7 linked regions of the Homo sapiens genome follow. The protein of the gene in region 5 purifies or fractionates together with the protein of the main gene of each other region. This does not show direct contact. Each region holds a gene or a part of one and is shown on either strand. Other genes may lie near its edges. The genes, in order: NMT1, SPAG9, ZER1, EDRF1, CYS1, NAPA and UNC119B.

Evidence for each region.
Region 1: the proteins of CYS1 (region 5) and NMT1 purify together in Homo sapiens (affinity purification with mass spectrometry; one large-scale study listed by BioGRID and IntAct). This does not show direct contact.
Region 2: the proteins of CYS1 (region 5) and SPAG9 purify together in Homo sapiens (affinity purification with mass spectrometry; one large-scale study listed by BioGRID and IntAct). This does not show direct contact.
Region 3: the proteins of CYS1 (region 5) and ZER1 purify together in Homo sapiens (affinity purification with mass spectrometry; one large-scale study listed by BioGRID and IntAct). This does not show direct contact.
Region 4: the proteins of CYS1 (region 5) and EDRF1 purify together in Homo sapiens (affinity purification with mass spectrometry; one large-scale study listed by BioGRID and IntAct). This does not show direct contact.
Region 6: the proteins of CYS1 (region 5) and NAPA purify together in Homo sapiens (affinity purification with mass spectrometry; one large-scale study listed by BioGRID and IntAct). This does not show direct contact.
Region 7: the proteins of CYS1 (region 5) and UNC119B purify together in Homo sapiens (affinity purification with mass spectrometry; one large-scale study listed by BioGRID and IntAct). This does not show direct contact.

The regions. Positions count from the first base shown.
Region 1 is NC_000017.11:45,063,805-45,068,044, reverse strand, and holds part of NMT1 (glycylpeptide N-tetradecanoyltransferase 1), read right to left. Parts: intron 1-4,240.
Region 2 is NC_000017.11:50,987,629-50,991,868, forward strand, and holds part of SPAG9 (C-Jun-amino-terminal kinase-interacting protein 4), read right to left. Parts: intron 3,041-4,240; coding exon 2,822-3,040; intron 2,245-2,821; coding exon 2,049-2,244; intron 1-2,048. UniProt on the Homo sapiens protein: The JNK-interacting protein (JIP) group of scaffold proteins selectively mediates JNK signaling by aggregating specific components of the MAPK cascade to form a functional JNK signaling module.
Region 3 is NC_000009.12:128,737,017-128,741,256, forward strand, and holds part of ZER1 (protein zer-1 homolog), read right to left. Parts: intron 3,872-4,240; coding exon 3,756-3,871; intron 3,104-3,755; coding exon 2,915-3,103; intron 1-2,914. UniProt on the Homo sapiens protein: Serves as substrate adapter subunit in the E3 ubiquitin ligase complex ZYG11B-CUL2-Elongin BC. Acts to target substrates bearing N-terminal degrons for proteasomal degradation with the first four residues of substrates being the key recognition elements.
Region 4 is NC_000010.11:125,732,648-125,736,887, reverse strand, and holds part of EDRF1 (erythroid differentiation-related factor 1), read right to left. Parts: intron 3,485-4,240; coding exon 3,337-3,484; intron 3,254-3,336; coding exon 3,145-3,253; intron 2,817-3,144; coding exon 2,705-2,816; intron 1,245-2,704; coding exon 984-1,244; intron 1-983. UniProt on the Homo sapiens protein: Transcription factor involved in erythroid differentiation. Involved in transcriptional activation of the globin gene.
Region 5 is NC_000002.12:10,066,356-10,070,595, forward strand, and holds part of CYS1 (cystin-1), read right to left. Parts: intron 1-4,240.
Region 6 is NC_000019.10:47,497,701-47,501,940, forward strand, and holds part of NAPA (alpha-soluble NSF attachment protein), read right to left. Parts: intron 3,898-4,240; exon of another isoform or gene 3,757-3,897; intron 3,050-3,756; coding exon 2,933-3,049; intron 1-2,932. UniProt on the Homo sapiens protein: Required for vesicular transport between the endoplasmic reticulum and the Golgi apparatus. Together with GNA12 promotes CDH5 localization to plasma membrane.
Region 7 is NC_000012.12:120,716,958-120,721,197, reverse strand, and holds part of UNC119B (protein unc-119 homolog B), read right to left. Parts: coding exon 4,156-4,240; intron 1,279-4,155; coding exon 1,166-1,278; 3' UTR 1-1,165. UniProt on the Homo sapiens protein: Myristoyl-binding protein that acts as a cargo adapter: specifically binds the myristoyl moiety of a subset of N-terminally myristoylated proteins and is required for their localization.

The sequences.
Region 1 (4,240 bases), on a different chromosome or scaffold from region 5:
GAAAGAGTTAAAGAAGCATCCTCCTGAAGTTACTAAATGTATGGCTCATAAATCTATGGGCTCTATAGGGAAAGGGTTAACTGCCAACTTAGTAAAGCTGGGGAATTTTAGCGTGAGCATATTAGTTGAACAATGTGAAAAATCAGCAAAACTGCTGTGCCATGAGCAGCGAGTCCCTGAAATAGGCTCTCATTTACTTTCCATTTCTTCTGCTTTCCAGTCTCTTCTCTTTGAAGCAGCTCTTGATTAGTTTCTTTTTAATTGCCATTTAATTGGGAAACAAAATTAGAACACTTATTTGATATCAGTGATGAGGTTTCTCTTTCCATTCTGCTTTGATCTAGTTTTGAAAAACCAAAAGTTGAAGGGAGAAATTAAAAAGGAACTAAAAAGATTTCTTATTTCCAAGAGCTAGCTGCAGCTATAAGCCATCAAATAAATAGGGAAAGAACGACTCTTGGAGAAGCTGAAGAAAAAAACAAAAACAAGTAAGGCTAGCTTTATGGAATTTATTTTCAGAAAGACTTTTCTCTCCTCCTAAGTTTTCATAAGGGATAGTATCTCACAACCAGGAAATGAGGAGAACTTATAAAGAATCCATGTTAACCTGTCCCAGGGAGTAAGAGAGCAGGATGGAGATGAGACACCTCTTGTCAGAGGGCTCTTGACCCGTGCTTACCAGGATCTCAATGACACTGAAGACACTGCAAAATAAATTCCGAAAGATTCCTAGAACACAATAGTCTAAAAGTTCTTTTTTGTTCCAAAACACTCAGACAATCTTCACTTATTACCCCCAAATTAAAATCTGCCAACTGATGAGATTTATTCTTTGGCAATACTTCTTGGAAAGACTCTCATTAAAAAAAAAAAAAAATCAAATTAAACCATATAGATGAATCACGAACTACAGGGGGATGCTGCATAAAGGTTATCTTATCTGACTCTCCTCTCAATTGTTCAGGATAATTACGCTAGGCACGTAACTGGGGGAAATTGAGTGCAGTAAAAAAACAAACAAAACCAGCTGGATGCAGGAGCTTATGCCCACAATCCCAGCAGTTTGGGAGGCCAAGGTGGCAGCATCACTTGAGGCCAGCAGTTTGAGACCAGCCTGGGCTAAATAGTGAGACCCCATCTCTACAGAAACTTTTTAAAAAGAAAATTAGCCAGGGATGATGGTGCATGTCTACAATCCTAGCTACTTGGGAGGCTGAGGTGGGAGGATCGCTTGAGCCCAGGTCAAAGGCTGCAGTAAGCCATGATCACACCACTGTACTATAGCCTGGACGACAGAGCGAGGCCCTGTTTCCAAAGTAATAACAATAATTTTAAAATTAAATTAAAAAATTTTTAAATAGAAAAACTGAAGAGACGCACCCATACACACTGCATATGTATGCATGTATACCTATATGTATACATGAAGGGTTTGGGTTTTTTTGTTTTTATTTATAGAGATGGGGTCTCACCATGTTGCCCAGGCTGGTCTCGAACTCCTGAGCTCAAGTGATTTTTCTGCCTCAGCCTCCCAAAGTGCTGAGATTACAGGCATGAGCCACTACACACAACCACATGAAGTTTTATATTCACCAAATGTTTATGCTGATTTAATTACGGAGGAAACACAAGACCAGAAAAGTCAAGAACTAAATTCATATACAAAGAGACATAAGTAACTAATACAACTGGCCGGGCGTGGTGGCTCACACCTGTAATCCTAGCACTTTCGGAGGCCAAGGCAGGTGGATTGCCTGAGCTCAGGAGTTCAAGACCAGCCTGGGCAACAACGGTGAAACCCCGTCTCTACTAAAATATGAAAAATTAGCCGGGTGTGGCAGTGTGCTCCTGTAGTCCCAGCTACTCAGGAGGCTGAGGCAGGAGAATTTCTTGAACCCGGGAGGCAGAGGTTGCAGTGAGCCAAGATCGCGCCACAGCACTCCAGCCCGGGCAACAGAATCCAGTACATGAATTTAGCTCATTTTATTAGCATAGAGTACTATGACTTTAGTTCCTGAAAAAAAGGGGCAGGAGGCTGGGTGTGGTGGCTCATGCTTACAATCCCAGCACTTTGGGAGGCTAAGGCAGGAGGATCACTTGAACCCAGGAGTTTGAGACTAGTCTGAGCAACATAGCGAGACACAGTCTCTTTAAAAAAAAAAAAAGGCCCAGGAGAATAAGGGTTAGCTCGAACTATCATTAACCTTTATTATATATTACACATTTTAGACTCTCTAGCATTGAAAGGAAAACTTCTCTGTCAATTTTTACATGATTTTTGAGAACATTTTAAATAATATTAAGACAAAAAACATTTCAAGAAGCAAAACACAGTGGAAAGCACACAACAGTGGAAAGCTCCACAGCAAATTGGAGCTTCCTGGTTTCTGTAGGTATTTCTTTTTTTTTTTTTTTTTTTTTGAGACAGAGTCTGGCTCTGTCGCCCAGGCTGGAGTGCAATGGCGCAATCTCGGCTCACTGCAAGCTCCGCCTCACAGGGTCACACCATTCTCCTGCCTCAGCCTCCCGAGTAGCTGGGACTACAGGCATGCGCCACCACACCTGGCTAATTTTTTGTATTTTTATTAGAGATGGGGTTTCACTGTGTTAGCCAGGATGGTCTCGATCTCCTGACCTCATGATCCCGCCCGCCTTAGCCTCCCAAAGTGCTGGGATTACAGGTGTGAGCCACCATGCCCTGCCTCTGTAGGTATTTCATAAAAACTGTAGTGAGGCTTACAATGAGAATTATTTGGGGAGAGAAAATGTGTATGTAAGAAAAATCTGACATCCTCTCACTTGGTGAGGGGAGATGAAACTCCACTAATACTGGGCTAGGCACTTTAATATCTGCCATTCATTCATACAGCAAATACTCATTAATGCCCACTAAGTGCTAGGCATTTCGAAGACACAATCCTGTTTACATGCTCCTTACTGTCAGATGAGACAGGTACCAGACACATTAAGAAAAATTACCAAACATGTAGTTATATTTATTGTTATTATAACTATTGTTACGATAAAAGCTACAATACAGTATGTGATAAGAGCAGAGGGGCAAGCTGGGAGGTTAGGGACGATCTGAAGAAAGAGGAGGAGGGAGGAAAAGGAGTGCATTCCAGATGTTATCTCATTAATCCCTACAACTCTGAGTTAAGTACCTTTCCCAAGGTCACAGGACTGTTAAGTGTCAGAGCCAAGCTTTGAGATGAGATTTTGAGATCAGAGGCTTGCTCTGTCGCCCAGGCTGGAGTGCACTGGAGAGATCTCAGCTCAGTGCAACCTCTGCCTCCTGTTTTCAAGTGATTCTCCTGCCTCAGCCTCCTAAGTAGCTAGGATTACAGGCGCCTGCCATCATGCCCAGCTAATTTTTGTATTTTTAGTAGAGATGAGGTTTCACTATGCTGGCCAGGCTGGTCTCAAACTCCTGACCACAAGCGATCTGCCCACCTCAGCCTCCCAAAGTGCTGGGATTACAGATGTGCGCCACCGCGCCTGGCCTCAGACCAGATTTAAATTATTCCAAAGTCCATGCTTTTCTACTGTGCCGTGCTGCATTTTCCCACATTGCTGCTTCTCCCCAAAACCATTTCCTCTCAAAGTTCATGGAAAAATGTTGACTCTACCCCAGATTCTTAGTGCCAGAATTAGACTCTCTCCTCCAGACTAGGCCCTTGGTTTTTCACCTACTACCTCCAAACTCATTTTCACAGATCTTTAGATTTGGGACGCTAATAAACATAATTTTTTCACCCAGACCATAACCATGCACAGAGACACCACTGCAAACTGTCAAAGTTTTTAAGGTTATCACTTACTTCTACTACAAATAAAATAATTTTATTTATTTATTTTTTTGAGATGGAGTCTCGCTCCGTTGCCAAGCTGGTGTGCAGTGGCGCAATCTCAGCTCACTGCAACCTCCGCCTCCCGGGTTCGAGTGATTCTCCTGCCTCAGCCTCCCGAGTAGCTGGGACTACAGGTATGCACCACCATGCCCAGCTAATTTTTCTATTTTTAATAGAGACAGGGTTTCACCATGTTAGCCAGGATGGTCTCAATCTCTTGACCTCGTGATCCACCCGCCTCGGCCTCCCAGAGTGATGGGATTACAGGCATGAGCCACTGTGTGCCACTTTTTTTTCTGAGACAGGGCTTTGCTCTATTGCCCAGGCTGGAGTGCAGTGGTGCAATCTCAACTCACTGCAGCCTCCACCTCCCAGGTTCAAGTGATTCT
Region 2 (4,240 bases), on a different chromosome or scaffold from region 5:
AGGAGCAGAAAAGATAATAAGACATGGTAATGAAATACAGCAGTTAATATTCAGACAATTACTATGGCTGTCTCTTATTTTGGGTTTTGTCATAGTTTCTTCTCAAGTGAGAGAGAAGGGAGGGATACACACATACAAATAGTAGGGAGAAATATAAAGAATGACCTAAAATAAATTAATAAACTGAAATATGTTTAATATTCTATCACAAAACCTTTCCTTTGAATTGTCAGGGCATATTTAGTAAAAGATATATAACCAGGCTATCAAATTCAAACATGACTTATTCTTAAATTAATAATTCAGGCCAGGTGCGGTGGCTCACGCCTATAATCCCAGCACTTTGGGAGGGTGAGGTGGGTGGATTTCTTGAGGCCAGGAGTTCAAGACCAGCCTAGCCAACATGATAAAACCCCATCTCTACTAAAAATACAAAAATTAGCTGGGTGTGGCAGCACATGCCTTCAATCCCAGCTACCTGGGAGGCTGAGGCAGGAGAATCGCTTGAACCTGGAAGGCGGAGGTTGCAGTGAGCTGAGATTGCACTGCTGCACTCCAGCCTGGGTGACAGGGTGAGATTCCATCTCCAAAAAAAAAAAAGAATTAAATATTAACCCATTTATGCCGGAGGTTGCAAATTTTTTTTGTAAAAAATCAGACCTTAGCGATGACCTTGAGCAGTAGGATATGAATAACTCCCACAAGCTTAGCATTCCAATAATGGACCACTAGGCATAAATGGGTTATTAATTAATCTTTCTTACTTTATACACTAAGAATATTAAACTTTAAAAAGGATCTAGTTTAAAGAGACTCTCATCTAGAGGGGATCTAGAAAAGGCAGGAAAGAAAATAAAATAATTCACTAAATGGGCCTAGATTAACCAACCCTTTAACGGAGGAGCCTAAAACAAACAGTTTTCTTTGGTTTGTTTGTTTTCTGAGACAGAGTCTTGTTCTGTTTCCCAGGCGGCAGTGCAGTGGTGATATCATGGCCCACTGTAGCCTCCAGCTCCCAGGGCTCAAGCAATCCTCCCACCTCAGCCTCCTGAGTAGCTGGGACCATAGGTGCACGCTACCACGCCCAGCGAATCATTAAGTTTTTTGTAGAGATGAGGGTCTCACTATGTTGCTCAGGTTGGTCTTGAACTCCTGGACTCAAGCAATCCTCCTGCTCAGACTCCCAAAGTGCTGGGATTATAGGCATGAGCCACTGGAACTATCTGAGTTGTTTTTTAATAAAATATTTGCATGAAAACTAAATTCAAAAAGGTCATCCACACCCATGTGGGAAACTTGTACAATGGCAGATTTAAACAATGGCCAATTTTGCTGATAACTGGAGTGAAAATTAGAGTAGGGGTGGGATTAAAATGACAAAGAATTACTTATAGAATGGAAGACAGTAAGTACAAAAAAAAAGAAAAAAAAACAGATCAGAGGAGAAAATGAACAGAAAGATTTTGACTAATATATAGTCACACACCTGGTAAAACCATTTTGGAAAATGATGGACAGAATATATGGTGGTGGTTCCACAAGATTATACTACTATATTTCTACAGTACCTTGTGCATGTTTACATACACAAATACTTACCGTTATGTTCCAATTATCTACAGTATTCAGTACAGTAACATGCTGTACAGGTTTCTAGCCTAGGAGCAATGGGCTATACCATATGGCCTAGGTGTGTGATAAGCCATACCATCTAGATTTGTGTAAATGCACTCTATGATGTTCACACAATGATGAAATCACCTAATGACACATTTCTCAGAACATATCCCCATTGTTGACTGATGCATGATTATACTTTTATAGATAAGATTTTTTTTTTAAATTGGAAGGTGTACAGAAGAAATGGGGGGGAATATCCAGCGAGAATGATGGAGCGGGAATACATGAAATTATCACAAGAATAGGTATCTTTTAATCCACCACAGTGACACTAATTAGTGGAAATCTTTTGACTGTTTGAGATTATTTTGGTTCCTTTTATTTGTGCACTTCACCCAGTTGCCTAAGTTGATGACCCATTATTATACCTCGACTGATACACTGGGGAGAGGTCTTCTGGGATCTGAACTCCCAAAGGATCTGTAAAGACATGCTCTGTGTAGACGCCAGTTTGGGAGATGTCCACTGTGTCTTCAGCTGACCCCGCATTCCCTTCTGTAGCTTCAGTTGCTTCTTCTGCTGTTGGAACATTTTCATCAACCTCACTATTTTCTGCTTCCATTTCTACAAAGTAAATAAAACACTATTCCAAGTCTGGGCTTTTCTCCTCCAATTATTTCCCCACACAAACCCCTGTTATAGAATTCCATTCCATCTACCCACTCCTTCACACTGTACCATGAAATTAAGAATTCTTCATTCCATTTAACAGTCATTACAGCATTTTTTTTTTTTTTGAGACAGAGTCTTGCTCTGTTGCCCAGGCTGGAGTGCGGCGGCGTGATCTTGGCTCACTGCAAGCTCCACCTCCCAGGTTCACGCCATTCTCCTGCCTCAGCCTCCCGAGTAGCTGGGACTACAGGCACCCGCCACCACGCCCGGTTAATTTTTTGTACTTTTTAGTACAGACAGGGTTTCACTGTGTTAGCCAGGATGGTCTTGATCTCCTGACCTCGTGATCCACCCGCCTTGGCCTCCCAGAGTGCTGGGATTACAGGCGTGAGCCACCACGCCCGGCCTACAGTATCTTCTTTCAAGTTCTTTCAACCTTGTTACTTAAGATCTAAATTAAGTCCATAATGAGGCATCTGAGTGTAGCCTTAGACTCTATACAGATGGCAGGTAAAGAGAATGGATATACCTGGTGGTTTATCCATCACTGGAGAAGCACCATTTGTACTAGGGGAAGTGGCAGCTCCCGTCACACCTTCTGCAGAACAACCAACCACTGTGATGCCTCCTAACAGGCTGTCTGTCTCTGCTGAGCTGTTGCTTGTCATACTTCCACATAAAGATGCTTTGTCTACCTGACCAGATTCTGAAAGATCTTCTCCTGCAGGGTAGTCTGTTTCTCGTGCACCTGAAAAATAAATCTTCTTGTAACAGCAAAGTAAACTTCTATAAATAACATTTTTTTTACTAAAACAATTACAGGTTTGAAATGAGAGTTATGCAGGTGAGATGTACAGGTAGTTGAATACAGGTAGCATTAAATTTACATAAACAAATCTTCACAATATGGGAAGGTAACTTAAAAAATTAAGAAAATACTTCTATTAACACAAGTGCAAATAAACATAAAAATGTCAGAAAATAAACTTTTTTTTTTTTTTTTTTGAGACAGAGTCTTACTCTGTCGCCCAGGCTGGAGTACAGTGGCATGATTCAGCTCACTGCAACCTCCGCCTCCTTGGCTTAAGTGATTCTCCTGCCTCAGCCTCCTGAGTAGCTGGGACTACCGGTGTGAGCCACCACGCCTGGCTAATTTTTGTATTTTTGGTAGAGACAGGGTTTCGGTATGTTGGTCAGGCTGGTCTTGAACTCCTGGCCTCAAGGGATCCACCAACCTCAGACAAGTCCTAGGATTACAGGTGCGAGCCACCACGCCTAGCCAGCTTCTGTTCTTAGTGAGCTCCTCAGCAGCCACAGGTTAAAAACAATCTATTATATCTGACAACATCAGCCAAAAAAAAATTCTTTTAAATCATCAAGACTACTGCTACTACTTGAAGTATAAGCTTCTATCCATTACTGTTAAAAATTAAATGCCCCAAGTATATAGGTTGATTAAGATATTAGTAAAACATTAAAAACTAAGCATTTATAATATAAAAATATTTACAATATAAAAATAAATCTCATTTTTTAATTTAGAAAATTGTTTTATTTATATCACACTAAAAACTTTTATTGCAGTAAAAATAATATATATATAAACAAAATTTGCCACTTTAACCATTTAAAAGTGTACAATTCAGTGGCACTAATATTTACAATATTGGCATTAATATTTATAACATTGTGTAGCCATCACCATTATTTTTTTTTTTTGGCGACAGAGTTTCACTCTTGTTGCCCAGGCTGGTGTGCAATGGTACAGTCTCGGCTCACTGCAACCTCTGCCTCCCAGGTTCAAGCAATTCTCCTGCCTCAGCCTCCCAAGTAGCTGCGATTACAAGCGCCTGCCACTGCACCTGGCTAATTTTTGTATTTTTAGTAGAAACGGGGTTTTACCATGTTGGCCAGGCTGGTCTCGAACTCCTGACCTCAGGTGATCCGC
Region 3 (4,240 bases), on a different chromosome or scaffold from region 5:
ACCTGTAATCCCAGCTACTCGGGAGGCTGAGACAGGAGAATCGCTTGAACCTGGGAGACGGGGGTTGCAGTGAGCCAAGATCACACCATTGCACTCCAGCCTGGGTGACAGTGCGAGACTCCGTCTCAAAAAAAAAATTTTTTTTTTTGTAGAGGTGAGGGCTCACTATATTGCCCAGGCTGGTTTCAAACTCCTGAGCTCAAGTGATCTTCCTGCCTTGGCCTCCCAAAGTGGCTGGGATTCTAGGTGTGAGCCACCGCATCCGGCCTGTGACTGCTCTTCTGACGAGGGCCTTCTGTGGGCCAGCCTGGAGTCATGGTCCAAAAGCCTGAAACACGTGTGTGCAAAACTCCTGGGCCAGCGATTCCGCTTCCTTTCTCCCCAAGAACTATAGTACTTGGCACACTGGCAACGCTACCAATGTCAGCCTGTTCCTCCCAGTATGGGTTTTCAACTGAAATGTCCATCTGTACAGGATGGCACAAAGAAAGTGACTCCGTCCTAAAATGACGAGGGAGATCCATGCCTGGTGATTGGCCAGTCAGTCACAAAACAGTAGGAATTGATGCCAGCTTGACTTAAAGTAATGAAATCTGTGCATAGAAACACTGCTGGAAGGAGACACACCAAAATGTCAACAGGAGTTCTCTTTCAGGGAGTGAGATTATGAACGATTCTTGTTTTCTTCTTCTTCTTTTTTTTTTGAGATGGAGTATCACTCTGTTGCCCAGGCTGGAGTGCAGTGGCGAGTTCTTGGCTCACTGCAACCTCTGCCTTCCAGGTTCAAGTGATTCTCCTGCCTCAGCCTCCCAAGTAGCTGGGATTACAGGTGCCCACCACCATGCCTGGCTAATTTTTGTATTTTTAGCAGAGATGGGGTTTCACTGTGTTGGCCAGGCTGGTTTCGAACTCCTGACCTCAGGTGATCCGCCTGCCTCAGCCTCCCAAAGTGCTGGGATTACAGGTGTGAGCCACTGTGCCCGGCCCTGTTTTGTTTTCTTGTTTTTTTTATTCATTTTTATTTTTATTTTTATTTATTTATTTTTGAGACGGAGTCTCGCTCTGTCGCCCAGGCTGGAGTGCAGTGGCGCGATCTTGGCTAACTGCAAGCTCCGCCTCCCAGGTTCACGCCATTCTCCTGCCTCAGCCTCCCGAGTAGCTGGGACTACAGGCGCATGCCACCACGCCCGGCTAATTTTTTGTATTTTTAGTAGAGGTGGGGTTTCACTGCGTTAGCCAAGATGGTCTCGATTTCCTGACCTCATGATCTGCCCGCCTCTGCCTCCCAAAGTGCTGGGATTACAGGTGTGAGCCACTGTGCCCGGCCCTGTTTTGTTTTCTTGTTTTTTTAATTTATTTTTATTTTTATTTTTATTTATTTATTTTTGAGACGGAGTCTCGCTCTGTCGCCCAGGCTGGAGTGCAGTGGCGCGATCTCGGCTAACTGCAAGCTCCGCCTCCCAGGTTCACACCATTCTCCTGCCTCAGCCTCCCGAGTAGCTGGGACTACAGGCGCATGCCACCACGCCCGGCTAATTTTTTGTATTTTTAGTAGAGGTGGGGTTTCACTGCGTTAGCCAAGATGGTCTCGATTTCCTGACCTCATGATCCGCCCGCCTCTGCCTCCCAAAGTGCTGGGATTACGGGTGTGAGCCACCGCGCCTGACCTTCTTCTTTTTTTTAAAGAAATGGTCTCATTCTGTCCCCTAGGCTGGAGTGCAGTAGCATGATGTTGGCTCACTACAGCCTCGACCTCCTGGGCTCAAGTGACCCTCCTGCCTCAGCCTCCCCAGTAGGTGGGACTACAGGTGTGCACCATCACACCCAGCTCATTTTTTTTTTTTTTTTTTTTTGAGATGGAGTCTTGGTCTGTTGCCCAGGCTGGAATGCAGTGGCGCCATCTCGGTTCACTGCAACCTCTGCCTCCTGGGTTCAAGCGATTCTCCTGCCTCAGCCTCCTGAGTAGCTGGGATTACAGGTATGTGCCACCACGCCAGGTTAATTTTTGTATTTTTAGTAGGGACGGGGTTTCACCATGTTGGGCAGGCTGGTCTTGAACTCCTGACCTCGTGATCTGCCCGCCTCAGCCTCCTAAAGTGCTATGATTACAGGCGTGAACCACTGCACCTGGCCTGATTTTTAAAATTTTTCGTAAAGAGGAAGTCTCACTATGTTGCCCAAGCTGGTCTTGAAATCTTGGGCTCAGCTGGACGCAGTGGCTCATGCCTGTAATCCCAGCACTTTGGGAGGCCGACGTGGGCGGATCACGAGGTCAGGAGATCGAAACTATCCTGGCTAACACGGTGAAAACTCGTCTCTACTAAAAATACAAAAAAATTAACCGGGCGTGGTGGCGGGTGCCTGTAATCCCAGCTACTCTGAGGCTGAGGCAGGAAAATGGCGTGAACCCAGGAGGCAGAGCTTGCAGTCAGCTGAGATTGCACCACTGCACTCCAGCCTGGGCGACAGAGCAAGACTCTGTCTCAAAAAAAAAAAAAAAAGAAAAGAAAGGAAATCTTGGGCTCAAGTGATCCTCCTGTCTCAGCTTCCCAAAGTGCTGGGATTATGGGCAAGAGCTACTGTGCCCGGCCCACCTGTATGGTTTTCTGTTGTGTGTCTATTTTCTCCCCACCCCTCCCCACAAATCAGTAGGTATTAGTGGTTTGCAAAGAGCAGGCTTTGGGTACATGCAGATGTTGGCATGTATGACAAATGCTCCAGGCTGCACGGATGAGATCGTGCCCTTATGTATGCTCTGTGCTGTGTGCGGCTACGTATCAATGAGTGAAAGCAGAACCCTACAGAAGACCAGAAGGAAGGTGGGAGCTCTGAGCAGACCTTAATGGTATGAGCATCCTGCCCAGCACTTACCCCATATTCCACACCGCATCCCCGCTCCCTGCCCTGCCCACACCTGTAATTGATGTTTCTCCGAGAGTTTATGTCCCAGCTCTGGATGGCAGCCCACATGCGTTCCTCCACCTCCTCACGCTGGGGCTCACAGACGCCCCAGGCCTCGGGTCCATCAAACATGATGTGGGAGAGGACGCCGCAGGCATTGTAGGAAACCTCGATCCCATCGGCCTTGCTCTCCAACAGGTTGCTGCCAGGAGAAAGACAGAAAAATGGAGTCCCACTCCCCCAGTTTCTCTTCAGATACCAGCGGCAGGACCCCAACTTAAAACCAGAAGCAAGAGGTGCTACTTATTTCTTTATCCCATATCGTCTATATACCCAGACTACTTCTAAAGGGATTTGAGGTCATTTAAGATATAATTACAGGCTGGGCGCAGTGGCTCACGCCTGTAATCCCAGCACTTTGGGAGGTCAAGGCAGGTGGATCACGAGGTCCGGAGATCGAGACCATCCTGGCTAACATGGTGAAACCCCATCTCTACTAAAAATACAAAAAAATTAGCTGGGCGTGGTGGCAGGCGCCTGTAGTCTCAGCTACTCGGGAGGCTGAGGCAGGAGAATGGCGTGAACCCGGGAGGCAGAGCTTGCAGTGAGCCTAGATTGTGCCACTGCACTTCAGCCTGGGTGACAGAGCAAGACTCCATCTCAAAAAAAAAAAAAAAGATATAATTACAAAAGGACCACTTACGAAGGATTGAATGAATAAGAAACCACATTATCGAGGGAAAATGACATTTATAGCAAACCTAGGCTAAGAGCAGTTGTGCAACTGAGCAAACGCTAGAGCTCTGAGCATTGTGGCAGCTAAGGCAAAAAGGGAAAGGATTAAAAATACCAACCTGAAGACGCTGATGAACTGGGAAGTCATTAGTTGAGGCCTCAGCTCCTTCACTTCTGCCACATTCCCCAAAAGTCCTAGCATATTCCTATGCAGTTCCTGCTTCTCTGGGAATTCCTGGGAAAAGGAGAGCCAATGGGCCGCATCAATTAGTACTTAATGACTTAGTATCTGGTATTGTTAACCAAAAAGCTTCATGGGCATCTGGCCATGCCAACTAGACAAAGAGGGGGCATATATGCTGCCCTCCTACCCTCCAATGCTCCTAGGTCAGTGCTGGGTACACACACTAAGGAATTAAAGGGGTGGGATTGCTTGCCACAAAGACAAAGGTTGATTAGAGATCTGACCTATGGGACAGACGTGGTTCTGTTCACCAAAGCTCAAAATACTAGTTTAAGGGACCCTCCTAGAAATTAAAGCAGGAAAACAGAGCATGTGTTTAAGGATGAACAGACCCGCTGTCCAGCTCGTAGCGTAGTGGGC
Region 4 (4,240 bases), on a different chromosome or scaffold from region 5:
TAGAGCATGCTTTGGCCAGAGTGGTCAGGGAACATCTCCCTGAAGAGGCAACATTTCAGTCAAGACTTAAGCCTTAAAAAAGGCAGCCATGAACAGACCTAGGGTAGGTACATTCCAAGCAGAAGCAACAGCAAATACAAAGACCCTCCAATGAGCATAATCTTGATGCTTTTGAGAGAAAAAAAACCCAGCATGGCCACGGCAAACCAATGGAGCAAGTGAAGGTCAGAAAGATGGTCAATGTTTTAAGGTGACAGACATAGCCCCTCAAAAACTTGCTTAGAGTTTCCATCTGAAAGTTACACTCAGTGCTTAAATTAAGAGATTATCTGTAAATACGACTGTATTTCAGTTCAGGGAACAGCCAGAACTCTTAAGGCTGGCCTGGATCTAATCATAGGGAGACGGTATGTTGAAAGGTATATACTGCCTGGAGATACACTGATGGTAGAGTCAGTGCAATCCACACAGGGAGAAATCTGTCTGGCCCTCTCCAGGGCAGAGACATGTCCAATACAACAGACATGACCACAAGAGTCACGAAAAAAGTACTGTCCTATATAGCACAGGGATAATGTACCAGAGCTCACCATATACAGTTCCAAGAGCCACCCCCTTCTCTACTCTATGTTCACCAAGCAATCTATATATGTCATTTCCCAGCAACCCCAACACCGGATAGAAGTGCCCTAGTAATGAGACATGACTATGACTACACACTGGTCACTGGAAAGGAAAATCCTTCACATAAGAATAGACAGACACCTGGTTTACACACCTGTCCACTATAGGCTTGCATAATGTGGGTCAGTTACCCTCGAACAATTATAAAACCAACTTTAAGAATTCAGAAAACTAATGATTACTAGATGCTAGACCATGAAAGGTTTATTGAAGTAATGGTATCTTTTGAAAGGCTAACTATATTCGATTAACAATTATGTTTCCTTGATAAAAATTTAATATAAATTCTAAAGGCTTACTCTGATTTGATGAATAGATTTGTATTTTTCTGGTACTGATAGTTCTCCAACAGACTTGATTATAGCTACTGCTTTGCTATCATCTGATGGATCAGAGCTGGTGCTATAGGATCCATTTTCATCACTGTCGGGCATCTCTTCCTCCTCTTCACTATAACTTTCATCAGAATTCTCATTTAAAGGAGATTCTGAATTTTCTTCCTTTTTAGGTTCATCCAATTGAAAAAGTTCTGAAAGCATGTAATTGGCGGAAGCAATAATCTTATGAAAAAGAGAGAAATATGTGTAAATTACTGTCATCAAAAAATACATGAATTTTACTACCATACTAACGAATTTTAGGAGGAGGTCTGCACACAGGCTGTTTCCACCATATAGACTGTAACACACACAGAAATGTTCCCAGTTCAAAGCTACTGATACTCTGGGTATGCTCTGCAAAATCTTTATAGGCTGATGCATTTCCTATTTCCCGAAATTACTCCACCCTGAGCCCTCCCTCTTAAAAGGTGTCAACTGAATTTCACTGGAGACAAACAAAAGCTTTTGAGTACAGAGTGTCATAACTAAAATATTAACAAAAATTTAATACCACCCTATGCCAAGTGAGAAACCAGAATTTTTCTTTACAAACTATAAATTAATTCAAGTTTCTCTATAATAGGTAACTAATATTTATCATATAATCTATGGTTCTAGAAAAAAAAAACCATTACATTAAAAAGGGAAAAGTCCATTCTGATATCTCTTAAAATTAGCATTTATATATGACCATTTAACCCATTCTACTATTTATCAGTTCTTAATCACAGACAATAGTCTTTAACACCATTTCTAACATCCAAATAAACCACTCAAGTTCCACTAAACACTGCCACCTCAGTCAGCAATTAGGTATTTCAGTCAGAAACAAAATGTTTTACTATTTTTCTTCAAAAACATTTCTGAGTTTGGTCTCTAGGATAATCTTTATCTCTAAATCAAATGTGGCTACAATTAAAATTACTTTGGCTCTTCAAAGAAAAATTGCGTATCTTACATACCTTTACTGATTTGAACAGGATACAACAAATAGCCTTAACAGTGAAAAATAAAGTTGTCAATCAGACAACCGAGGGTAAGGATGGTGTAAAACTGTTGGGAGCATGACTGAGGGAATATTTTAAGAGATGCTTTTTCCCCTTCTCTTTAAAAGAAATTTTACTGGCCTTTATTTAAGAGATGCTTTAATATCCTGAAGTGTGGAATGTGAACCCTATTTATATTAACAAAGTGGTAACAAGGTCTAATAGCGACAAAACAAAGAACTAAGGGCACTACTGTTAGAATTACATGAATTCTAAATTCATTGAGCAGTGCTGTCTGAGAGAAATGTAACATGAGTCACATACAGAAATTTTAAATTTTCTAGTAGCTACATTTAAAAAGTAGAATCTGTGAAATCAACTTAAATATATTTAATCCAATATATGTAATATTGCATTTCAACATGTAATAGGTACAGACATCCAATCTTCAAAATTCAGTGTGTATTTTACACTTACAGCACATGTCAATTCAGACAAAGCACATTTTAAGTGATCAACAGCCACATGTGCTAATGGCTACCACACTGAATAGGGCAGTTACGGAATATGAATCAGGAGGCTTTACTGTCTAGGTAACAATCTCCTATTAGAATGCTAGGATTGTTTTAGAGAATACATAAATGTTAATCTTACTTGAGGATGCCTACTTTTGTCCAGTAATTTCAGACAATTAAGAAGCAATGTTCTAATAGTTCCATAGTGTTTCTTATTTTGATTCTTCTTCATCATCATGTTGCAAGCAACCCTAAAAAAAGAGTTTATATCAACTTTACTGCCCATTTCATCGTTGTCTGCAAGACTCAAGTCTAGGAGTGCTCTTGTTTCTTTCCAACAAAGAGCTATAAGAAACAACAAAATACTAAACTTTACACTTTACCCACAACCCCCAAAACGTTTATACTATGGTGGCATAAGAAAGCTGAGTAATATTTGGTACAATGTGTACGTGTATTTTTCCCCCTACTATGAAAACCTAAAAGCATTTAAAAGCCTTGGTTTGGAAACTGTGACTGTATGCTTTAAAACTTTATATAATAGGCTACTTCTTCATCTTAAATTCTTAAAGCACTCACTTGTACAAGAGAATGGCTACCGGCATTGTGAATGGATTTTGGTATTTGTCTTCAGTTTCTTCACAAAGAGTAGTGAGGTCATAGAGCTTCACTATATCGCTGCCACTTGCTGAAAAGAAAAACAAAGAAGACTCATTTCACAGCAGTTACCCAAATCAATTATTGTTCACTCAAGAAGTATTAATAGCTTACCTTTAAAGAGCCAATAGGTATGTCCTTCTTTGGTACAATTAGATTTCAAAAATGATAAAATATTCTGTGCAATGTCTTTTATGACTTTAGTAGAAAAATTAGAATTTTCCAAATTGGGAATTTCTTCTGTCTTTATCATTTCATATTTCTGTAAAATACAGACAGATGGAAAGCAGTTTAAGAGAAAACCCAAGGAAACAACACCTTTCTTTTTAAAAAGCAACCAAATGCAGAAGTCCTGCAAACAGAGACCTATGTAGCATGAAAGTGTTTAAACCAGTGGTTTTTAATCTTTTTTCTGCCCCAGCCTCCCAAAGGAATCTCATCCACCCCATCAGCAAGGGCAGTTCACTATTGGAGTAATTTCAATGGAGAATCACTACCAGATTTAGAACCTCAGATTCAGGCATGATCTTATTTCTGTTCTAACATGGAACAAATCATACTGACTACTTTTATTCCACTTGAATGGTTTTCAACTGGGAAGATGGTAAATGAAGGTAGGCTTTACCCAGCAAGATTTTAAAACACATGTATTTCTGGCCTTTTTTTTTGCTAGAAACTACAGTCAGTGACTCAAGGAGAGAGAATCATTTAGGAAATTTTCCAGTAGACACCTCTCTTCCCTTCATCTATGGACTTTATTACTTCACAGGGATGGAGCAGGGGGGAATGGAGGTGGCAATAAGAGTAAAGGCTTCATGGACATTACTACCACTATTTTAAAAGTGCCTTTGCATTTTTCTTGTTTATCTTCTGTGCACACTCTCCTAACCATCTCCTACCACATTTTCTGAAGTACTCTAAAACTGGAAACTTCAAATCAACTGGAATGTAAGACCAAACACAATCGTCTGAGGTTGATTTTCACCCCACTTTGTTCATGTGAAGTCCCCAATGTTGA
Region 5 (4,240 bases):
CCTCCAGGGATCTTGGGACCCACTGCCACCTAGCACGAGGACACCCCGTATGTCACCTCCAGGAACCACGCGACCCCGACCCCACTCTAAACATTGCCCAGAACCCTCTCCCTCCCCCACTGAAGTGCTTTCTCTTCATAAGGCCAGGACGTGTCTACACAGCATGTGGCTGCCGTGGATTCTATGGTCCGACAGTCCACTTGTCTACCCGTGCAGTGCCAGAACCACCCTGTCTCATTCCTGGCATCAGGCAAGCCTGGCTGTCCGCTAAAGCATGTCTTCCCAGCTTCTTTCTTTTTCCAAGAGAGTCTTGGTGATTCTTGGCTATTGGCACTTCCACGTACAGGTGCTGCTCAGCTTACAATGGGGTTACGGCCCGAAGAAAACATTGCAAAGTGGAAAAATCCTATGTTGAATCATCAAAATCAGGGACCATCTATACATGTATTATAATCAGCTTGTCATATTTGGGGGAAAAAAACCTTGGGGATTTTTCTAGGGTTGTATTAAACTATAGATCATTTTAGGGGGACTTATAGCTTTACAATAATGAGTCTTCAAATTTATAAATAGGGAATATCTATTCATTTAGGACTCCTTTAGTGTCTTCTAAGAAGTTATCATTTTCCCTATAGAGATACCATGGATATCTCTTTTTATTTTATTTATTTATTTTTGAGACAGAGTTTTGCTCTTGTTGCCCAGGCTGGAGTGCAATGGTGCGATCTCAGCTCACTGCAACCTCTGCCTCCCGGATTCAAGTGATTCTCCTGCCTCAGCCTCCTGAGTAGCTGGGATTACAGGTGCCCGCCACCACACGCAGCTAATTTTTGTATTTTTAGTAGAGATGGAGTTTTCCCATGTTGGCCAGGCTGGTCTCGAACTCCTCACCTCTCAGGTGATCTGCCCACCTCAGCCTCCCAAAGTGCTGGGATTACAGGCGTGAGCCACTGTGCCCAGCCAGCAATGTTATCTTTTTAAAATAAAATTTTCTACTTGCTTGATGCTTCAGAAATGACTGAGATATATACATTTTAAAAAAATTCTTTTCTTTTTTTTTTTTTTTTTTTGAGACAGGGTCTTGCTGTGTTGCCCAGACTGGAGTGCAGTGGCCTGATCATAGTTCACTGCAGCCTCCACCTCCCAGGCTCAAGCAACCCTCCCATGTCAGCCTCTCGTGTAGCTGGGACTACAGGCTCGTGCCACCATGAAGAGCTAATTTTTCATTTTTTGTAGAGATGGGGTCTCACTGTGTTGCCCTGGCTGGTCTTAAACTCCTGGACTCAAACAATCCTCCCATCTCAGCTTCCCAAAGTGTAGGGATTACAGGTGTGAGCCACTGGGCCTGGTCAGAGATATATGAATTTATCTTGTGCTTAGCAGTCTTACTGAATTCTCTTATTAATTCCAGTAATTTATGGCTTCCTTTGGATTTTCTTATTTCCCATTCACATGATCTGGGAATAATGGCCATTTGATTTTTCCCTTTCTGGTCCTTATACATTTTTCCCCTAACCTTTCTGCACTGGCTGGGACCTCCAGTAGTACAGTAAAAGGAAGTGATGATGACAGTCATCTCTATCTTAATCCTTTATTGAAAGAAAAAGTTTCCATCACATCATGACTGAATATGATATTTGCTGTAGTTTCTTCTCCAGCTATCTTGTATCAGGTCCTTGTCTCTCTATGCTGTGTTCTGGGTCATTTCTATCTCCCTCTCTCCATCTCACTGATCCTCTCTTCATCTCTGTCTAATCTGTTAAACTTATACCATTGATATCTTTCATTTTGCTTATTATATTTTCCATTTCCAGATGTCCTATTTGGTTCTTTTTCACATCTTCTAGGTCACTTTCTATAGTCCTTGTCCTTTGCAGGTGTTTTCTTTAAACATAATAAACGTAGCTGATTATAGTCTGTGTCTGGTGATCCTAGTAACTAAGATCTTCATTGGTATATTTTTGTTTCTTGTTTCTTCTAAGTCTTCACTTGGTTCTTTGGGGAGTTGATTATTTTTTGTCATTGGCAGCTTGTCATCATTGAAAAATTCCCTCTGGGTATTCTTTGAGGCCTAAGAGGCCTTCCTCCAGAGAGGGGATGCATTTGCTTTTGTCAGGCACATAGCAGGCATCCCTGGTCTGAAACCACTTCAAATTAAATCTATACTTTCAAGTATTTTGGACCACCAGGTGATGAGAATTTAGGCTGCAAACATAAGAGGTGCCTGGGTTGAGCTTACAACTTCCTAGAGCTTGCAAGATCTTTCTGTTCAAAGGAAAAAACTTTTGGGTAAATAGGTGTACACGATTACAAAGAAACCCACTCCAACTGCATGTGCTAGTCAACCAGTTTTTGGTTCATAAATATAAATGGTCATAAAACGACTCACAAACATTTAAAGGGGGAGGGCACATGAAAGAATAATCAAGATGAACCAGCTAGGCGTGGTGGCTACCAACACTTTGGGAGGCCGAGGCGGGTGGATCGCCTGAGGTCAGGAGTTCCAGACCAGCCTGGCCAATGTGGTGAAACCCCATCTCTACTAAAAACACAAAAACTAGCAGGGTGTGGTGGCGGGCACCTCTAATCCCAGCTACTGGGGAGGCTGAGGCAGGAGAATTGCTTGAACCCAGGAAGCAGAGGTTGCAGTGAGCTGAGACTGCACCACTGCACTCCAGCCTGGGTGACAGAGCGAGGCTCTGTCTCAGAAAAAAAAAAAATTAAATTTTAAAAAATAAATAAAAGTCTCCAGGAAGGGATGAGCAGGCGGAGACAGGCCACCTACAAAAAGCCAAGAGTCAGGTGGCCTCACCTGCTCATCAGTGACACTGGAATCCACTGTTATAATGGCTGCAAAGGTATAAGGGAAAGCTATTTTGAACTCAGAATTTTAATTCCAAATAAACTATTAATCAGGTATTAAGAAAATGAAGATATTTTCAGACATACAAAGACTTAGAGTTTATCTCCTATTACCCTTTCTGGAGGAAAAAAAATTAATTATTTTTATTTTGTTGTTGTTGTTGTTTTTTGCGACGGAATCTTGCTCTGTCACCAGGCTGGAGTGCAGTGGCACAATCTTGGCTGACTGCAACCTCAGCCTCCTGAGTTCAAGCGATTCTCCTGCCTCAGACTCCCGAGTAGCTGGGACCACAGGTGCGTGCCACCACGCCCAGCCAATTTTTGTATTTTTAGCAGAGACAGGGTTTCACCATGTTGGCCAGGATGGTCTCGATCTCTTGACCTCATGATCCACCTGCCTCAGCCTCCCAAGATGCTGGGATAACAGGTGTGAGCCACTGCGCCTGGCCGAAAAAAATATTTAAAAAAAATTTTTTTTTTAATCATAGAAGATAGAGGTTTCATGAGCCTAATGGAATGCAAGGCAGAGGAAACTTTGGATAATGTGTAATAAGGCCAGAAAGCAACCTGTCAGTGTCCAAAGTTCCCATGACATAAATTGAGCGATCAGAGTAGCTGCTCCAAATATCTGAAGAGCTCATGTGGAAACAGGCCACACTTCTTCTGCCTGTCCCAGGGGCTCAGTGTGTCCCCACTAAAGGGAGGTGGGTTGTGTTCAACACAGAGGACTAAGTCAGAGCTGCCTGTGAGGGAAAGGCTGCCCCAGGAGGCAGTGAGATGCCTGTCACTGAAGCCAGACAGAGGCTGGGTGATCCAACAGCTCATGCCCCCTTCTTAGAATTCAAAATCAAGGCCAAACACACACCCTGAAGTCACGCACTTCTATTTCTAGGGTCACTGTGAACGCTCAGCAGGTGAGGAGGGGGAGGGCAAGGGTAAGAAGGGATCGCGACAACAGCGTCTTCATGCTCCCGTCTCCTCACCTTCCGGGCCTTGGTGTACTTGGTTCAATGCCAAGGAGCTCCCCAGGGTTCTCCCAGCCTGGCCCAGTACCCTCTGATGGGTGTGGCTTTGCCTTGACCTCTATCGCTGCGGTCCCCGTGCTGAGATGGAGAACCTGTTTTATTTTTATTTTTCACTTTTTTTGAGATGGAGTCTTGCTCTGTCATCCAGGCTGGAGTGCAGTGGCGTGATCTCGGCTCACTGCAACCTCTGCCTCCAGGGTTCAAGTGATTCTCCTGTCTCAGCCTCCAGAGTAGCTGGGATTACAGATGTATGCCACCACACCTGGCTAATTTTTGTATTTTTAGTAGAGGTGGGGTTTTGCCATGTTGGCCAGGCTGGTCTTGAACTCCTGACCTCAAGTGATCCACTCGCT
Region 6 (4,240 bases), on a different chromosome or scaffold from region 5:
CCCAACCTGACTTCTGCGTCTCTGAAGCCCTTCCTGGTTACACTTGGTCATCTCCTCCTTAGTAAAATGGGGGCAAATCACAGAATGCACAAAGAAATCAAATGGGTTAAAAGATGCCAAGCATCTGGTACACAGTAGAAACCCAGTAAATGGCAGCTGGGGAGGAAGTGGGGGACAAGCAGGGGCCAGGTCGCTTCTCTGCCCCAGGTACACACACTGCCCCCACCCCCAACTATCAGGCAGGCCTGGGAAGAGGCCTCGCTGGCCCGAGTCTGCCCTGAGCAGCAGCCATGGTTGGGTAACTGAGGAACCAATAACACATATGAGCATCACCCTTCCCCACCCAGAGCCACCAAGGTGGCAGCAGGCCACCCTCTGCGAGAGGGAGAGGAATTCGGGAGCCCAGTCGGGCCTCAGGCACACTCCAGCTGCCACTTGGGGGCAGGTCCTTCTGGAGGGAGTCCTGGAGGAAGCCCTAGAAGTGCTGACCCAAGACAGAGGCCTTCTAGGCTGCTGAGGAGACCAGTGATGAGGACGGCCCCAGGGTACCGGCCACCTGCTTGGGGAAGCCAGGCAAGGTTCCAAATCGGGCCTCCAGCGCTGTCTCACAAGGCACCCGGCCAAGGGCAGAGGCTGTGGGGAGCCCAGGGCAGGCAGGGGCCCCTGGACTGATGAAAGCCAAGGGTGTCCTGACTGGAAGTTTATCACACACCAGGTGCCGCGCTGGGCATGACTGCATCATCTCACAGCAGTCTCTGCTTTAACAGACGAGGAAACAGAGGCCCAAAAGACTGACTTGCCCAGGATCACAGGGGAGGCAGGGTCCTCCCAGACCACCCACCACCTGCGCTGCTGAGCCACACACAGTTGCTACATGACATTCTCTGTGAGGCTTTTTTTTGGGGACAGGATCTCACTATGTTGTCCAGACTGGTCTTGAACTCCTGGGCTTGAGCGATCCTCCTGCCTCAGCCTCCCAAAGCACTGAAATTACAGGCATGAGCCACTGCACCTGGCCTTGTGTGAGGCCTGACTAGCCTCAGACACAAAGCAGCCACTGCCCTTGATGCCAATGTGCCCCTTGCCCCACTGGGAGTCATGGCTGGCGTGCGTATCTTTAGGCTGTAGCTCTGGAAGCTGCACTAACACCCTTCCCTGCTCAACACCACGTCCCCAGGGCTCTGGACACGGCACCTGCTCTCAGCTCTACCCAGGTGAGGCTCTCCTTTCAGAACTGCCCCCTTTCTTCCTTGAAAGATCTCCCATAGCCAAATTCACGCCCCCAGCCTCAGCTCTGTGCAAGTTGGCCTCTGTGCCCTGGATGTAACATCATCTTTATACTTTCCTACCGGTCGGAGTCCTCAGCCACCTTCTGAGCTTCCTAAGGCCAGGGAGGGGCCACATCCAGACTCCAGGCCCACACCCTGCAGAGTCTCGCTGGAGAGCTAGAAAAGCTCAGATCAAACGCAGGGGAGGGACCCCACCATATCCCACTGCCAGGCAGGGCCTGTCTGCAGGAAGTGAGGGGTCTGCTGAAAGAGCAAATGGCACTCTCTGTTCGGCAGCCTGGCGCTCAGTGTTGCCCCAGAGTGTCCTTCCAGTCACTCCAGATGGGGCAGCAGCTGAACGTCACAGATGCTAAGACAGCACCTCTAGGCCAACCAGTTTCCCAGGGAGCAGAAGGAAAGGCTTGGCGGGGCAGTTTAATGGAAGGCATGGAGACTCCATGTGGTGAATCAAGCTTAAAACCAACCCAGGGTCTCCCTGGGTCATCACTGCATCAACCACGCAGCCTGCTGTGGCCCAGTGCTACCAGCCAGGCAAGCCCCATGGCCCACCCAGTTACAAGGCTGCTCCTCGGCCTCTTGCCAGGCCTGAGCCCCACCATGTGACCACTGAGGCCAACGCATGAGATGCCCAGCTGCTGAGGAGCAACTGGTCAGTCTAAGGACAGAGAAGAGCTACTGGTCAACACAAATTCATCCTCATCTGGGAACTAACACGTCAGATCACGACAAAGGGGTATGCCAGCAGTTCTCAAACACGCCATGTGAACCAGTGCTCACTGATCCATGGAGGAAGCTCCCTGCACTGCTGCAAACCTGTCTTCTCTTGGGAAGGACAGGCTTTTATTCCAAGATTATATAGCTGCTTTTTATTTTTTAAAGATTCATATATTTTCCATTCCCCTGAGATGACAGTGACAATAGATGGTCATTTTTAAAAACTGCCTGTGCTTTCTAATTAGCAACCTGTACCTGGCACCAACATTTTAAAAAATAAATTAAAATTCCCGCCACATGCAAGCAAACACTGGGCTGGACCTCCTCTTCGGGAGGCACCCAGGGGGACAAAACTGTTTTCTCACCATGAGTCAGCCCCAAACTGGGTTTCTGTCCCTAGCACGCTCTCATTTTAAGTAATTTGTTCTCTGGCAACTACATCTCGGGCTCTGTTCTCTCTAATTCCTCCCCAGGATGTAGGGAAGCCAGGTTGGGCTAATTTCCGCTCCTTTTTCGGCAGCAACTCCTACCTGGCTGGTCTCAGAATCCTCCCCGCCCCCCACACCGCTCCCTTCTGCATGTTAATTCTGACAACAGAACAGATTTTCCTCTCTCCCCGGCAGGCGGTGGGTCTGCAATGGAACTCCCACTCCCAAATGCTCCGGGATTGGGAAGGGGTGATCAGCTGCACCGACACCACCGACACGGTAGATAGGGGGGCGGAGACTTGAGCAGGGCGCGAATGCCAACTGGAAGGAAGAGAGCCAGTTCTAAAGTCAACGCTCACTCTGCCTCAGGCACGCCCCTGCCAGCCTATCACATGTCGGCCACTGGAAAAACCAGAGCCGCCAGGAAACCTGAGGAATCAATGCAGGGTGCTAGGATGGCGCTCCGGACAGCCAGCCCGTGTGGCCCGCAGAGGCCCTCACCTTGGGGGTCGGCTTTCTTGAATGCGTTGCCAGCGTCCACAAAGCAGGTGGCTGCGTCGTGCTTGCTCTGGAGCTGCAGGTGCAGCTGTGCAGCCTGGCAGAACGCGTTTCCAGCAGCTGGAACAGAAGAGAAGGGCAGTCCTGGCCTCAGTGGGGCTCCACACTTTATGAAGCCACAGAGACACTGCCCTGGGAGGTGGGTCGGGCTCTCGAGAATGCGGAAAGAGTCCCCAAGACAGGACGAGGGTGACCTGAGCGAGCCCAGACCGAGGCCTAGAACTCAGGTCTCCTGGCTCCTGCGCTCAGGTCTGCTGGCTCCTGCGCTGAGGCTCCTGGTGGCCCACCTGACAGTCTCTGAGGGCGGCAGGAAGCTGCCTCGGGGGAAGGCCCTGAGCCCCAGGTATATGGAAAGAGAGCCAGGGTAAGCCCAGGTAAAACACCATGTCCCTAATCCCAGCTATGCCAGCATTTCCAGGGCCACCACTTCTAAAGATCCAAGGAGAAGGCAGATAGAGCTGAGTTGGAAAGGATATAAAACAGAGTGAGGTGGCCTCCTGCACCTCCCGGCCTGGGCAGTCCTCCCCAGGGGAGCCTCGAAGCACAGGGCCCAGAACCACCACTAGAAGGCAAAGTACAGGCTGAAATCATGGGGTGGCTTCGGAGGGGTATTTTGGGAAGCAAGGGGCAACTGAGATTAAACCACATAACATCTTCCCATCTACTCCCCTTTCCAAGTCCTGTTTCTTTTTCCACAGCTCCCCAAAGCTCTTCCTGATTCTCCCAACTCCTCTGCCTCTGTTCACATTCTGTTCCCTTCACTGCAGATCCCCATGGACAAGGCACTTGCATGAATTGTGAGGCTCATGGAGTTGGGGTCGGACAACACAGAGCCGGCTCCCTCCAGGAGCTGCATGTCCAGAGAGGGAAACAGGATGTGGACAGCAAGAATGAATACATGCAGACCAGTGCCCATGGGCGGAGGGCAGAAGAGACCGTGCCTGAAGCCTCATCCATCCTGTGCTCATCTGCACACGGTCAGCTTCTGTGGGTCCCAAGCCATTCTGCCCACACATCTCCTAACTGACGTTTGGGAGGCAGCAGCATCTCTCCTCCTCCTCGTGCAGCTGACCACCTCCAGCTCAGCTCTGAGGCTTCTCCCCTTCATTCTCCTCCAGCTGAATCTGAGTCAGAGTTTCTAAGCTGGAAGAGGACCAGGAGGCCTGGCCCTATCCTCTTAAGTTTTGAGCAGCAGAAAAGACAAAGCCTTCCGGGTTTTCACTATATGATTTCATTATTTTCAAGAGTTCC
Region 7 (4,240 bases), on a different chromosome or scaffold from region 5:
CTGAAGGCTCAGACTGCATTACGTAACTCTGATCCACCAGGAAAGTTCCAGAAACTACTTCAGTAGAAAGGTAGATAGGAAAACCCTCCTAAACAAGAAATGTACAAAGAGCTTCGGAGGCAAATCCCCATCAAAAGCCAATCCTCCAGGCTGTGCAGTGCAGAGAAAAGTCAAATCTCTCCTTTAGAAAGCTGCTGCTGATTCGTAAGCATATCCTCCCAACATAAGCCAGATTAGCCCCTGGAAGCTGATACTATCAGAAGTCTAACCACATATCACATATGCTGGGAACACCACTGTCATTTTATAAAACCTCCCCGAAAGAAGTCTGGAAATAAAAAAACAAAATACAAGACCTGCTCTGGCCTCAAGAGATACTACTGTTCCATGAGCAGAGCTGACTCATTCTATTTCATGAGACTCAGAAGGGAGGAGCCAGGAGATGTGGAGCAAGCTTGTCTGTCCTCCAAAATGGGAACAGAAGGCACTGCCAGGCTGAAAACTTGGTCTATTCCCAGGAGGGCTGGCTGAGACCCTGGAAGTCAGACAGAGCAGCAGCCTCTCCACAAAGCAGACCCTTCAGCTTGGCAGCATCACCCATTCCTTGGTGCCTCCACTCTTGGCACCTCCCTCCCTCCCCACCCTTTCAAGTGTCTTCCAGTTGGTTTAAGACTTCACACAGACCGAGGGCAGACTGCGCTGATGGCAATGCCGGAGGTGAGAGGAGGAGCTACCTGGAAGAGGCCTACCTTTCAGCTTCCCACAGCACCCAGGAACCTTAAGAGCTGCTGACCTGCTGGTGGGCCTGGCCAGAGCCTTCTCACCAGGCACAGCTATGCCTGGTCGTCAAGACAACCAACAGGCAGCCAGAACTACGGAAAATAAACTTTTTTATCTGGATTCCAGGACCCTTATCCTAACCTTTTACTTTACTATAGTACCTCTGCAACCTACGGGGCAGGAAAAAAAGGGAAGAAAAAATACTGGGGAAGAAAACACAGCACTGTTTGGCAGCTCCTTTGGCGCGCAGGAAACTGCCACCCCAGCCTTGGCTTCCTGGGGCCAGGTTCCAGATGTGTGTTGACAAACTGCAGCTTCGATCATCTCCGTGTGCCAGGATCTTGTGGCCGCGGCAAAGCACCTCCCCTATCTACTCTTGCAGCACTTACTGGCCTCCATTATAGGCATAATCAGCCTTGTTGTGCATTATCAGCTTGTTGTCAACAAAGTAGAAGCTGTCAGAGCGGGTCTCGTAAGGATTTTCAATCATTAGACGAACTGCAAGTCAGGCAAAGGGGGAAGAAAAAAGCAAAGAATTATGTTTGAGTCTGCCCCACAGGGTAGGTGGGAGAAAACTTTGCATCCCCTCCAAAATAAGCCAGCGCTTCAGAGTATACTCTGCCAGAATAACGATGAGGTCAGAACAGAGGGAGGCAGCCCTTGACAGCTGGGGAGACCACAGAGGCCCCCCAGCTGAACATGATCTCCATTTCAACATAAGGATGCAATCAACTCTCCACCATGGCCTCCTCTGTCATCTCCAGCCTGGATTCTTCAGCCAAGATACCAGGGAAATGTGCTCACCCCTCTTCCCAACATGGACCCCACCAACCTATTTACTCAGTGCTCTCAGCTGACCAAAGCCAGCCCTGGCCTCTGGTCAGTGGCCCACCTCTAGACATTCCACTCCAAATTCAGAAATCTGAGCCTCACTGTGCCCACCTCCACACACAACCCTGACAACCCAAGGAAACCTAGATTGGAATGAGTGCAAGGAACACAGGGCAGGGAGCCTTCTCCGGAGACCTTCTGGGTATTAACTCGCAAATGATTCAGCAATAGGTCTGCCTGTCTTGGGATCTAAAGTAAAGTCTTGTTTGTTCAGGCAATTGCCCAGACCTCTTTAACCATACTGGAGAGTAAAGATAATTAACAGTCACTACCTCTGATCAGTTTTGAGTTAATGATTACATGCCATTTTGAGTCTTTAACCATACTGGAGAATAAAGATAATACTACCTCTGATCAGTTTTGAGTTAATGATTACATGCCATTTGGAGTCCCCTGGAGGAAATGCTGTTGCTCACCACAGTTCTCAAAAAGTGAAACTGATTTTTTAAAGTTCTTTGAACCCACCAATGCCAAAACTACTCGGTTTATATGCATAATATTGCCCTCCAGGCTGATTTGGCTTCATGGGTAAAACTTATAACACTATACATCATCTTTTCTTGCAAGTATCTACATATTCTAGCCAGCTTGGGAAGAGGGGTTCAAGTCAGAACCAGATGCTGTCGTCAACACCCTGCCCCACATCTCAGCAATCCTCATTTTACCTGGGAACTGTACTGCCACACGATTAAAGGTTATCTGGTTTTCAGAATATGACAATTCTTAAGGACCTGGGATTCTGAGAGGACCAATCAGTGATGCCAGCAAGGCAACTACAGGCATCACTAGTCACAGGATTCTATTCACACCCTCATAAATGACTTGAATTTTCCCTAACTATTCACAAAGGATGCGAACCTGAGGTGGCTAGGCCAAAGTTGCAGAAACTGACAAGGGCTGTTCTTTCTCTCTCGTTTGGTCCCCATCTTCCCTTGCCGAGGCTACACGGCAGCAGCCTTCTCCCTCTGGTGCCCTCCCCAGGTCTAGGCCACTCTTCCTCAAACAGTATTTCCACCTTCTCACTCCTGCCCCAAAATCTACAACAGCCCCATTCCTTCCTGCTGGATCTATCTCAACACTTTATCCAATCAACTCTCTATCCTGCAGGGAATGGAAAAGAAGTCCTCTGGCCTTGATTCTATTTAGCCTGCAGTTTCACATCTAGCTCTGATTAAGAAAAAAGTGAAGGGCCAATGACTAAAACACAATGGAAAACCATGACTAACAGTGCACAGGAGAGGTGCTTTATCTGATCAGCGTCCCAGGGATGGTCACAGGCCTCCTTTTATCTCCCTTAGGCACTGTCTTCCCACAGGAGGCATCTAAAAGGATGGCCTGTATTATTAAAACCTTCAGACCGGCCGGGCGCAGTGGCTCAAGCCTGTAATTCCAGCACTTTGGGAGGCCGAAGCAGGCGGATCACGAGGTCAGGAGATTGGGACTATCCTGGCTAACACGGTGAAACCCCGTCTCTACTAAAAATACAAAAAATTAGCCGGGCATGGTGGTGGGCACCTGTAGTCTCAGCTACTCAGGAGGCTGAGGCAGAATGGCATGAACCCAGGAGGCAGAGCTTGCAGTGAGCCGAGATTGCGCCACTGCACTCCAGCCTGGGTGACAAGATCAAGACTCCGTCTCAAAAAGAAAAAAAAAAAAAACCTTCAGACTGAGCACAGTGGCTCACGCCTGTAATCCCCAGTACTTTGGGAGGATGAGGCAGGTGGATCACAGGGTCAGGAGTTCGAGACCAGCCTGACCAACATGGTGAAACTCTGTCTCTACAAAAAATACAAAAAATTAGCCGGGCATGGTGGCAGGTGCCTATAATCCCAGCTACTCGAGAGGCTGAGGCAGGAGAATCACTTGAACCCAGGAGACGGAGGATGCACTGAGCCAAGACTGCGCCACTGCACTCCAGCCTGGGCAATAGGGCAAGACTCCGTCTCAAAAAAAAAAGAAAAAAACAAAAGGGCCGGGGGCAGTGGCTCACACCTGTAATCCCAGCATTGTGGGAGGCCGAGGAGAGTGGATCATGAGGTCAAGTGTTCGAGACCAGCCTGACCAACATGGTGAAATCCCGTCTCTACTGAAAATACAAAAACTAGCCAAGTGTGGTGTAATCCCAGCTACTCAGGAGGCTGAGGCAGGAGAATCGCTTGAACCTGGGAGGCAGAGGTTACAGTGAGCCGAGATCGCGCTGCTGCACTCCAGCCTGGGCAACAGACAGAGCAAGACTCTGTCTCAGGGGAAAAAAACAAAAACAAAAACAAACAAACCCTTCATTGCTCCCATACGGGCCGAGTCAGAGTTTAGAACAGGAGCCAGGAGCAATAGGAAATGAGAAGCCTGAGGTCAAATGACTAGATACGCATCATGTCAGCACTGCCACGAGACAATGCCAGGGCGCTGGACCAGATGGGTTTCAAGGTTTGTTCCTTGTAGCCCTCAGAATCTAGAGTGCTGTAAGGGTCAGGGGATACATACTGACATCCTCCGAAAGCTGGGGAAACTCATAGATATGTTCACAAGTGTTCCTACTGCTGGGGATGCAGAAGCCAAAATCAAAGTC